Homo sapiens: one gene and its partners. The gene in region 3 interacts genetically with the main gene of each other region. Each region holds a gene or a part of one and is shown on either strand. Other genes may lie near its edges.

Region 1 (3,960 bases), on a different chromosome or scaffold from region 3:
TGCAAAATGGGTTAGTGATCCTGACTATGGGGCTGTTGATTCAGGATTCGGCGGGAACGCCCAGCACTTCCTGAGTACACAAGAGTGCTGAGAAAATGGTAGCTGTTTTTTGCGATTACTGACTCGGGGCCCGACCAGCTCTGGCACGACTCAGCGGAGGTGGGAGTCCTGCGGGTCCCATCCCTGCCTCCCGGAGAGCCAGACCCCAGCGATAGAAGGCCCGGGCGTTGCTTGCTCGTCGCCGCTAGTGCCGCCGCGCCCCCTGGCGGCCGTCGGTTGCCATGTCAACGGAGGGTGGCGGGGACCGGGGGAGGCGGAGGCGGGGGCCGTTCTCTCCTCCCAGGGCCGGAGGACGCTCCCTCCGCGCCTCCCGCCTTCGCCTCTGTGGGGGCACTCCGAGCCGGGGAGGAAGGGGCTTTCCGCTGCAGCCGACATGTGGGGGTAAACTGAGGCACGCGGCAGGGCGCCCGCAGCCAGGTGCCGAGCGCGGGGCCCCACCTCCGAAGGCGGAGGAGGGGCCGCGGGCGGTGACGCGCCGAGGGCGGCCGGCGGACAGCGAGCGGGCGGGCGGTGGCGGCGGCGGCAGGTGCGGCCGCGGAGGGTGGGAGGGAGGAGGGCGGGGGCGGGCGGAGGAGGAGGGGAGGGCGAGGCCGGGCACCTCCCCCTTTATAACGCGCCCCCTCCTGGGCTCTCGGGCCGTCTCCTAGTCGGCTCTTCCCGTCTCGCCCCCTCGCCCGGCCGCCCCGGGCCCGGGTCCGGCCAGGGAGCTCCCAGGCCGCGGCTCGGGGGCTGACCCCCCGCCCGCCGCCCCGCGCAGCCCGGCGGAGGCGGCGCCGTCGGAGGAGGAGGAGCAGGGCACTGCGGCTGGCCCCGGATCGGGCGCCAGAGCGGCAGCAGCTTCGGCAGCAGCGGCGGCCCGGGCCCATGCAGCGGGACGCGCCACCCCGAGCCCCAGCTCCGGCGCCCCGGCTCCCCGCGCCCCCGATCGGGGCCGCCGCTAGTAGTGGCGGCGGCGGAGGCGGGGGCAGCGGCGGCGGCGGCGGAGGCGCCTCTGCAGCTCCGGCTCCCCCTGGCCTCTCGGGAACTACAAGTCCCAGGGGGCCTGGCGGTGGGCGGCGGGCGGAAGAGGCGGGGTCGGCGCCGCGAGGCCGGAAGTGGCCGTGGAGGCGGAAGTGGCGCGGCCGCGGAGGGGCCTGGAGTGCGGCGGCGGCGGGACCCGGAGCAGGAGCGGCGGCAGCAGCGACTGGGGGCGGCGGCGGCGCGTTGGAGGCGGCCATGGCAAAGCAGTACGACTCGGTGGAGTGCCCTTTTTGTGATGAAGTTTCCAAATACGAGAAGCTCGCCAAGATCGGCCAAGGCACCTTCGGGTAAGGCTGGGCCCCTCGGGGCCGGGAGCCCTGGGCCTGCACCCCTAGGGCCGACGTCGGGATGCCCGGGCCCCCCCCGAGTTGGTAGAGAAGTCGTCTGTCCCCGGGCTTGCCTGCTGGTCTCTAGGCCGCGCCGCACCCCGCCCCGGCCTGACGGAGCCGGCTGGTGGGGAGGAGCCTGAGGCCCGTGGTGGGGGCGGGGAGGGGCTGCAGAGAGGCGCCCGTGAGGGGAGCGGGATCTCTCCAAGGGACGCCCAAGTGAGGAGAAGGGACTGAGGGAAGGAAGCAGAGGCTCCGAACGAGACAGGCTGCCGGGTGGCGGGGTAGCCGCGTGCCCTGGGTACCTAGCCCAGCCCCGCCCGGGAATCTCTTTGCTGCTGCCCCTCCTCCTGTAGTGGGGGAGGGGCGGGCCCTGCGGAAATGGCCTGATGAGTTCTCGGGTCTCCCTTTCCGCCTGCAGGGAGGTGTTCAAGGCCAGGCACCGCAAGACCGGCCAGAAGGTGGCTCTGAAGAAGGTGCTGATGGAAAACGAGAAGGAGGGGGTGAGTACGGATCGGGCGTGCGGGCCGGCCGGCTAACTGCCCGGGACCCCGGGTCGGTTTTCCACCCTGCTGCTTCTGGGAGTCTCAGGTTGAGATTTAATTTTTTTGTAGTAGTTCAGAAATTTCCAGGGAATGTGGCTTCCACCCTAAAACTAAATGTTTCATTCTTAGGCAGTTATGGGTGAGGCCAGGAGGGGGAGTTGATGCATGCATCGTGTGCACTTTATTTCACGAAGTTAGGAAGCCTTTAAACACCTTTTTTTAGTGTTAAATTTCGCTTAATGTAAAAGAAAGATTATATATGCATGCTTTTTGAAAGGTGTCTGATACTCAATTATTTAATGTATTTAAAAGGAGCGGTCCCTTCTCCACCCCATCTTAGCTCTAGTACAACTTCCCATAAACCTTCTTTTGCGTAATGTGCATTAGCAAGGACATTTTTAAATCATCATGTTTGTTGCCAACGAAACAGCCATAGAGCTGAAATTTGAAGACTGAAACCGCCGAGCGTTTAGTGGCTAATAGCAAAGTATTGCTGTTTCAGTTTGTTGTCTCAAACCATCATCTTGAAGTGTGCATGCTACTAATATCCATTTTATAGACAAGGCTTCTGAGACAGCTGGTTTCAGAGCCCATGATCTTGCTCTGTCTCCCAACTTGGCTGTCAGTACAGACCCCAGGGCTGGGCTCTGTACTGCGCTCACTCTTGACCACTTTCCCCTCTTTCTCACCCAGTTCCCCATTACAGCCTTGCGGGAGATCAAGATCCTTCAGCTTCTAAAACACGAGAATGTGGTCAACTTGATTGAGATTTGTCGAACCAAAGGTAAGTTATTTGGTTCTTACGAGAAGATGACACTTGTAGCCTAAGGTTTTGTTTGTAAACTTGGAACTAGGCACACCTAAACTGCCTCTTCTTAACTCAGATGGACCCATGGTGACTGCTTTTTCTGGTCCTCTTTCATCGTAGCTGGTGCTTCCTCGGGGCCTGCCCTGGCCCAGAAGAGGCACTCAGAAAATATTTGACCGGTGAAGGAAGGAACAGACAGATGCTCTGGAGGGCATGGGTGCCCGTGGGTTGGAGCAGGAAGAAAGAAGCTGGTTGTGGGAAAGTGTGTTGGGTGTGGTTTTCTTGACTTTTTCTTCTTTCTATTCCTGCCTCAGCTTCCCCCTATAACCGCTGCAAGGGTAGTATATACCTGGTGTTCGACTTCTGCGAGCATGACCTTGCTGGGCTGTTGAGCAATGTTTTGGTCAAGTTCACGCTGTCTGAGATCAAGAGGGTGATGCAGATGCTGCTTAACGGCCTCTACTACATCCACAGAAACAAGGTGGGGGCCAGAGCTGGGAGGAGGACCCAGGCTTGGGCTGGTCTTGGCTCCCACTCCCGGGTGGATGTCACTAAAGGACCCACTCTTGCCCTTCCTGCAGATCCTGCATAGGGACATGAAGGCTGCTAATGTGCTTATCACTCGTGATGGGGTCCTGAAGCTGGCAGACTTTGGGCTGGCCCGGGCCTTCAGCCTGGCCAAGAACAGCCAGCCCAACCGCTACACCAACCGTGTGGTGACACTCTGGTACCGGCCCCCGGAGCTGTTGCTCGGTGAGGACTCCCGAGCGGGCCAAGGGGGGTGAGGGCCAGGCATCTACCTGGCCCCTTCCCCCCAACTGCCAGGGCTTCTTGAGCTGCCGGCCCTGGGGCATTGAGCCTCAGGAGGCCCTCGGGCTCAAGGGGCCCTCCTGGTGCGCTCTTCTTCCCAGGGGAGCGGGACTACGGCCCCCCCATTGACCTGTGGGGTGCTGGGTGCATCATGGCAGAGATGTGGACCCGCAGCCCCATCATGCAGGGCAACACGGAGCAGCACCAACTCGCCCTCATCAGTCAGCTCTGCGGCTCCATCACCCCTGAGGTACGGGGCCCCGGTCCCCACGGGGTGCAGAGATCGAGGTCCCCCGGCAGAGGAGGAGTGGGGAGTAGAATGGAAGGAGCGCTCCTCTCTGGAAGGGAGGCTGGTTTGGTGACAGGGCCTGTCTTGGGGTGGGGAGTGTGT
Region 2 (3,721 bases), on a different chromosome or scaffold from region 3:
AATGCGCCAGGGCCGCTGGCAGGCCCAGAGATCCGGGTGTTCAGAGCCTCAGCTCCACCTCCTCCCTCCATCCTGTTCAGGAAGCCACTGTCAGCCCAAGATAATAACAGTTATGATACAGTTGCCATTTATTGAGTCTTTGCTATGTGCCAGGTAATGATTAAAGATTTTTCATGCATTAACCGATTTAATTGTTATAACCACCCTTTGAAGTAGGTACAGTTAGTATGCTCTTATGCCCATTTTACAGATGAGAAAGCAGAGGCAAGAGTGTCGCTAACACGTGTGTGTTCCAACAGGATCTGTCCAAAACCCTCCTGATGTACACGGTGCCTGCCGTCCAGGGCTTCTTCCGTTCCATCTCCTTGTCACGAGGCAACAACCTCCAGGATACACTCAGGTATCAGAGAAGGGAAGGATGCAACTCTGGTAGGCCATGTTAATGGCAAGACCTAGAAGTCACACGTAAAAGTCCTCTTTCCCTTCCTGACCCTGATCAGGACACCCAAGATCGATGTATGTGCCTTTTTTCTGCACTGCATTTAAGGAGTAACAGCTGACTGGGCCCCACCTGTGTGGGTGAAACCTACAGAGAGTGAGGAGGAGAAGTGGAGTGAGAACTCTCCATGTGTGGTTTATTATGGAGGGATTATTAACCCATCTGTTAATCACAATATTTCTTTTTTTCTGACCACCCTGTTGCCTATTGAAGTCACAGTATTTCTAAAATCCCTCAGCAACTTGGAGAGGTCTAAACAAATGACTCAAATCAGTTAACCCAGAGGGTAAAGGTGACAAGGTCCACATCCTCCTTCATTTGAGGATCTCCAGCCAGCTAAGAGCCAGGTGTCCCTGTTGCCTCTGCCGTACAGCGACTCTTACATGTGCAGACTTGTGGCTTTCTAAAGGTTATCCTGGCTCGTCTGTTTGATGTTTGCATACATGCCATGGTGACCCCTCGGTGACCTGGGATGAAATGCTCATTTGCTCAGGGTGACTCTTACGGTGTTCAGTCAAGAGCACTGCCACCCATCACAGACACCTGCTCCCATGGGAGGCCAAACACATTTGAGAGTTACTGGTTGGAGTCCCTGCCAGCTCTCTTCTCAGGAGCCTTAGAGATGAAAAACAGGCAGGCAAAAACTGGGAAACTAAATTTTCTGTGACTTTCTCATTTCTTTTTCAGAGTTCTCACCTTATGGTTTGATTATGGTCACTGGCCAGATGTCAATGAGGCCTTAGTGGAGGGGGTGAAAGCCATCCAGATTGATACCTGGCTACAGGTGAGGATACTTGGTTACAGGTGAAGGTGGCTCCAAGTCTCTCTTCTGTGTGTCTCCTCTTACAAGCATGCTGTGTTCAGTGTCACAAGGCAGTGTGTGTTAATACAGTGCTAAGGAAGTAGGGCTCGGTCCCAGTGTCAAGTGTCCATATTTTCTTTATTTTCTTTTAGAAACTAAAGGGAAGGGAATGAACCATTTCAGAGCATCAACCGAAACAAGTTAAAAGAATTGATCTTTGCCTAGAAGAATAACTAGTTGTTTCAAGTCTCATATGCTACATACTGTGTCTTTTTGAATACCAGGTTATACCTCAGCTCATTGCAAGAATTGATACGCCCAGACCCTTGGTGGGACGTCTCATTCACCAGCTTCTCACAGACATTGGTCGGTACCACCCCCAGGTATGTGGAGACTCTGGGCAGTTTCTCATCTAACCACTGGTTTGGTGGTCAGCCTTTCCAAAAGCTGCCCTGGCGACACAAGCGCAGGAACTGGGAGCCATGTGTTCCATCCTGGCCCAGGAGGGTCTGTCCAGCCAGCCGTCCCAGAGGGCCCGGGAGCCTTGCTAAAAAGAAAGCGTTCCCTCGAAGACTGAGCCCCTTCCTGGTAGTCTCAAGCAGATGTTAATGTCACACTCACCACTTGTTTTGTTATTCTCCTTAAAATTCATACCAGCTCTTCCCCAACCCACATTTCCTTTATAGATGTTTCTTCTGTTTTTCCCTCAGGCCCTCATCTACCCACTGACAGTGGCTTCTAAGTCTACCACGACAGCCCGGCACAATGCAGCCAACAAGATTCTGAAGAACATGTGTGAGCACAGCAACACCCTGGTCCAGCAGGCCATGATGGTGGGTCGGAGCCACTGTGGGGCTTCATAGACCCTGGTCCCTTAGCTGGTGGGCGCAAGTGGGATTGTTTTTCTTCCTCGCATTGGTGCTGTGCACTTCCTCTGACTGCTGGAAATAGTACCTCCTGTGTCTCCAAAACAGACCTTTCTGAGGTTAGCTGATTCTTGATGCTTCTCTCCTTCTTCTCTTGGCTTCAGGTGAGCGAGGAGCTGATCCGAGTGGCCATCCTCTGGCATGAGATGTGGCATGAAGGCCTGGAAGAGGCATCTCGTTTGTACTTTGGGGAAAGGAACGTGAAAGGCATGTTTGAGGTGCTGGAGCCCTTGCATGCTATGATGGAACGGGGCCCCCAGACTCTGAAGGAAACATCCTTTAATCAGGTATGGGGTAAAAAACACGAAAGGACATAACCCTGTAGAAATATTCTGCCACTAAAAAAAAATGAAATGAGAAAAGTTTTTATAGAATGAAAGGACGTGACCCAAGGCCTTTGTCAGATTTCTTTTCCTCTGGCCTTTCCACTGACTTTAATAAAACGAGCTCTGATGGAGGTCACAGAGCATAAAACATCAGAAATTAGTTACAGGGACCCTTCTGAATTTTAACTGGAAAAGCCCAAGATTTCTCAAGAGGTCATCTCGTCTCTCCTCTCACCCTTCCTTCCCTATAAGCCATGCTGCTGGTTTGGAAGCTCCAGGGTTGGAGGCCTGCACCTATGCTCTTGCTTTCTCCAGCCCCCTGCCAGTGTTTTCAGGCCACAGCGGGCTCCTGAGGAATATCTGCAGTCAGCCTGGGGATTTTGCCTCCTGGGTTGGTTGAGACTTTGATAACTTGAAAACGTGCCTGCTTTCTCTCTCAGGCCTATGGTCGAGATTTAATGGAGGCCCAAGAGTGGTGCAGGAAGTACATGAAATCAGGGAATGTCAAGGACCTCACCCAAGCCTGGGACCTCTATTATCATGTGTTCCGACGAATCTCAAAGCAGCTGCCTCAGGTAGGATCTTCAGGCTCCTGGCAGGGTTAACTGTCATTATAGTCCTTTCTGTTTTACTGTCTATGAATGTTCTAACACTCATTCCAAAGCATCTGGTTTTACTTCTGCTTTGGGACAAGTAATTGTTATTAGCAATCCACTGAAAAATACTTAAATTGCGTTTAAATTCTTCCCTGGAGGCAGAACACTAAATCCTTTGGTAATTATTTACAGCTCACATCCTTAGAGCTGCAATATGTTTCCCCAAAACTTCTGATGTGCCGGGACCTTGAATTGGCTGTGCCAGGAACATATGACCCCAACCAGCCAATCATTCGCATTCAGTCCATAGCACCGTCTTTGCAAGTCATCACATCCAAGCAGAGGCCCCGGAAATTGACACTTATGGGTAAGGACCATTGTGCACTTCTGTCACCCACTTCTCCCTCCTACACTGGCTGAGACCCCTTCCCTCTTCTGAAATTACTGCTTGCCATTCCCACTACTCACCTATCATAGCTACATCTCTCCCATGCTCATTGAGAGGAAAATAGAGGGCAAGCAAATTTCTCATTATGTCCTCAGGACTTAGTTCATTCATGTAGTTGGGCTTA
Region 3 (3,721 bases):
AAAATCCAGGCTCAAGAAAATGTTGAAAACTGAAAAATTAATCACTATCAGCACTGATACTAGTAATGGCAGAATGCTAGGGTTTGACAGAGAAAAGCAGAGCAGAAAATTATTTTAAATAGGATGTGATAGTGAAGATGAGGAAGTTAAAAAGATCTAGCTCTGCTGTCCAATCAATATACCATTTACTGGTTAAAAACAAACAAAAAAACTATCAGTCTACTTTCAAATTTTTTCAAGAGCTTTTATAAACCAAGAATCATTTCTTTTCAAGAACACCATCATATTCCCAGATGTACAAGAAATTAATTGCCCTCTCTGTATGTAATATACCAAGAGAATCAAGCTTCTCTTGGCTTGTATTCTATTCAAAAACCATCCTATGATATTGCTTACTGTCCTACATTTTTAAGGCTTTTTTTTTAAAGTGGAAATTTGGTTTCTTAAAGAGCATTAATTAACTCGACTGTTAATCCTATTTGGAAAGCACTAAAGTTATAATTATTTATAACTGGCATCACCTCATTCTTTTCTAAATGGGAGTATAATCAGATGGAAGAGAGTAACATGTCACCATTGCTCAAAGTATCAAAGAAAAGGAATATTTTTCTTTTCTTTACATATCACATTTCCTTAAAGCTAAGAATTACAAAACCAAAAGCTAAAGAGAATATTTCAATACTCCCCAAATTATTTATCTGTAAAAATGACATTTTAGCAACCTCCCTTCCTACTCATCCCCCAGATTCTGCAAGTTATCTTTAAAGGTTAATTATGGTTTTGTTCATATTTTTAACAATTCTACAGGCAATACTCTTAGCTAACTTACAAAAATTGTCATTAACTACACAGGATAAATTATTTTAATTTACAGGTATTTAAAAGGAAATTCTTAAAATATTCAGGTGTCAAAAGAACATAAATTGTAAAGTGACTCACTGTAGTTATCCATACTGAATACTTCCCTTATACAATTCTAAGTATGTAAAATAAAGTTAAACAATACGACTAAATCAGCTCACGTAAAATAGCCTTTCAAATCTTCTATTTTAGTTCAACTTCTTTTCATCAATATACTTTTTGAGACCTAAGGGAACCCTCTTTTTTTTTTTTTTTTTTTTTTTTGGAGATGGAGTCTCGCTGTGTCGCCCAGGCTGGAGTGCAGTGACTCGCTCTCTGCTCACTGCAAGCTCCGCCTCCCGGGTTCACGCCATTTCTCCTGCCTCAGCCCCCGGAGCAGCTGGGACTACAGGCGCATGCCACCACATAAGGGAACATTTTGACACAAGTTCTAAAACTTACAGTATTTACGGTATTCGATTATTAAAATCTACCCAATAAATACCAGGATAAAATTAGCTGCATTTCATTTCTATCACTTTTTCTAATCTTTGAATAGGATTCAACCTCAGGAAACAACACAGTCAAAATGAAGTCACTTTAGTAAGCATTGACAAAGGCACAGAAATTCAATCTCCAGATAATATAAACAGAAGTAGGTAGCTGTGCTCTAGCACTAATCTACGTTCAAGTGGCTATAATGTACCTTCTTTTATTTTCTATCACTACCCACTGTTTGTCAACCATATTCCTAATTTGGTAAATAAAAAGTAGACAGATAATAGAAGCACCAAGTGATTAAGGAACTGGGTTCTCAAGTGCTTAACCTATATGACCCATTTAGAATATGCTGCCTATAGTGAGACTGTCATCTCTTAGATAGCAAACCAAAAACATGTTGCTTTGAAGTGGTGTAATGAATTAAAGGGGAAATTCTGGTATACTTCACTTGAAAACTCACAATTACAGAAATCAGTCCCCCATTTATTCCAAAGATCAAAATTTCTATGTTGAATCTAATCTGATAGTAAAGCAAATACAATAATGGTACTTTCGGTAGCAACTAACACAGTATTAGCCCAGAGCTGTCAAAAATCTATTCTGATGTGGGTTTACATAAATTCCTTTAGCAACTGCATGCAACTAACACCATACACATGCCAAGACAATGCTCTATGATTAATTGAAAAAAAAAAAATGAAAAAAAAGCTACTTCATTTGCCAAGCAGCAAACTATCAAACCTTTGGTTACTGTGAAAATAAGTAACAGAACCAGGTCATATGATCATGCCCCCAAAAACCTGAACCTAGCAGCCCCTCTCCCTCCTATGACATGGCAGAAAAGAAGGATCTTTCTGAAACACTTTTTTTTTTTAATTACACATATATTTTAAAAAGAGATATAGAAGTTAGCTTATATCAAAATTGACTTAATTAATGTCTATCTTGAGCAATATATAACAAATTTGTCAAGATCCCTTTGCACAGTGAGAAAATCAGACAACTACTATAAGGTAATATTGTCCCAGAAAAACCAAAATAAGAACACCGCATTAAAAGAAAGGTTGCAATTCCATTAACACAGACCTTCATAAACATCTTGGATCAAAACTACTTGTTAATTATTTAAATATTTCTCCAAAATATATCTGGGAGCTTAAGAGGCTACTTACTGCTACATGTAATAGTAAAGTATAAATCAGATCATTAATTTAAATCAATATTATAATCAAAGCCATTACTTAAATTCCAAGTGATTGTGCATACCTGTTTAATACCTGTTTACCTATGAAAGATACTACAGTTACTTTTAATGTTTACTTACTTGGAGTTTCCCCCCAAGTGACTACACATAAATAAGCAATGATTAGGAAAACTCAACTTGCTGACTACATCTGATTCTAGAACTCACTTGTGGAAGCCACAGGAATGTTGGGAAAGTTGGCAGTGCTGGTAGCATTAGACTCAGATGGGGCTAACAGAGCTGGGGTGCTGTATGTCTCTGTCGATGCACGATTACTTGGTGGATGCTGGATGGTTTGAATTGAATGTCCTTCAGTGGACAACGATGGCTGTCCCTCAAAGTCATGCACATATTCATCCTTCACCATCATACTTGATGGAGCTATATAGAAAATTAAACATATTTTAAATTTTTATAAGCTTCTATTCCCAGAAAAAAAAATCTTATTAGCAAGTAATATAATAACACCTAAAATCAATTACAGTGTAAATTACTAACCTTAATTCAGAATTTTTTCATATTATTTTAAAAGCATACTACTTTACCAGCAAAAGTCATTTATTCAGCGGTAACAGCATGAGATATATTTTATCAATCAATCTGACTCTCAAATTTGAAGCTAGTCTATGTTTCAACAGCCTCCAGCAACAATCCTAAAAAGGTACTCCTCAGTTTCTTGATAAACCTAGAAGAATAATCACCTAAATACATAAGGCAGGCAAAAACCGAATGGCTGGAAAATGTGTCCAGCTGAGAAAAACAATTATTCGGTCTAAATAGAGACTGAGTATTTAACTATATCTTTTTGTTAATTTCACACTGTGGAGATATGAGTGGGATCTGATAGATATCCAATCCCAGGATCTAGAATTATTGTTAAGCAACATATTCTTTAAAAATGAAGTGTACTGAATGTAATGTCCCCTATAGGTTTAGAACCAAACGGAAAAATTATAAATGAAAAGTCAAACTGAAATTTCCCTCTAGAAACCCAACCCAAATAAGAGTATTTGATTAATATATGGTGTGAGAAAACTCAGTAATCAACATCTTTCACCTATGTGATTACACCTTCATAAGCAAAGCTAGATTCCAGCTGATACAGCATAACATCTTTCCATTAACCAACCAGGAAAT

The links.
Region 1: changes in SMAD4 (region 3) and CDK9 together harm fitness more than expected from each alone (negative genetic interaction), as found in Homo sapiens cells (one large-scale study listed by BioGRID).
Region 2: changes in SMAD4 (region 3) and MTOR together harm fitness more than expected from each alone (negative genetic interaction), as found in Homo sapiens cells (one large-scale study listed by BioGRID).

Annotation. Positions count from the first base shown.
Region 1 is NC_000009.12:127,784,874-127,788,833, forward strand, and holds the start of CDK9 (cyclin-dependent kinase 9), read left to right. Parts: upstream 1-1,160; 5' UTR 1,161-1,275; coding exon 1,276-1,367; intron 1,368-1,827; coding exon 1,828-1,909; intron 1,910-2,644; coding exon 2,645-2,735; intron 2,736-3,073; coding exon 3,074-3,240; intron 3,241-3,340; coding exon 3,341-3,512; intron 3,513-3,670; coding exon 3,671-3,819; intron 3,820-3,960. UniProt on the Homo sapiens protein: Protein kinase involved in the regulation of transcription.
Region 2 is NC_000001.11:11,126,417-11,130,137, reverse strand, and holds part of MTOR (serine/threonine-protein kinase mTOR), read left to right. Parts: intron 1-299; coding exon 300-400; intron 401-1,186; coding exon 1,187-1,283; intron 1,284-1,585; coding exon 1,586-1,684; intron 1,685-2,011; coding exon 2,012-2,134; intron 2,135-2,331; coding exon 2,332-2,514; intron 2,515-2,993; coding exon 2,994-3,128; intron 3,129-3,341; coding exon 3,342-3,516; intron 3,517-3,721. UniProt on the Homo sapiens protein: Serine/threonine protein kinase which is a central regulator of cellular metabolism, growth and survival in response to hormones, growth factors, nutrients, energy and stress signals.
Region 3 is NC_000018.10:51,054,025-51,057,745, reverse strand, and holds part of SMAD4 (mothers against decapentaplegic homolog 4), read right to left. Parts: intron 2,966-3,721; coding exon 2,753-2,965; intron 1-2,752. UniProt on the Homo sapiens protein: In muscle physiology, plays a central role in the balance between atrophy and hypertrophy. When recruited by MSTN, promotes atrophy response via phosphorylated SMAD2/4.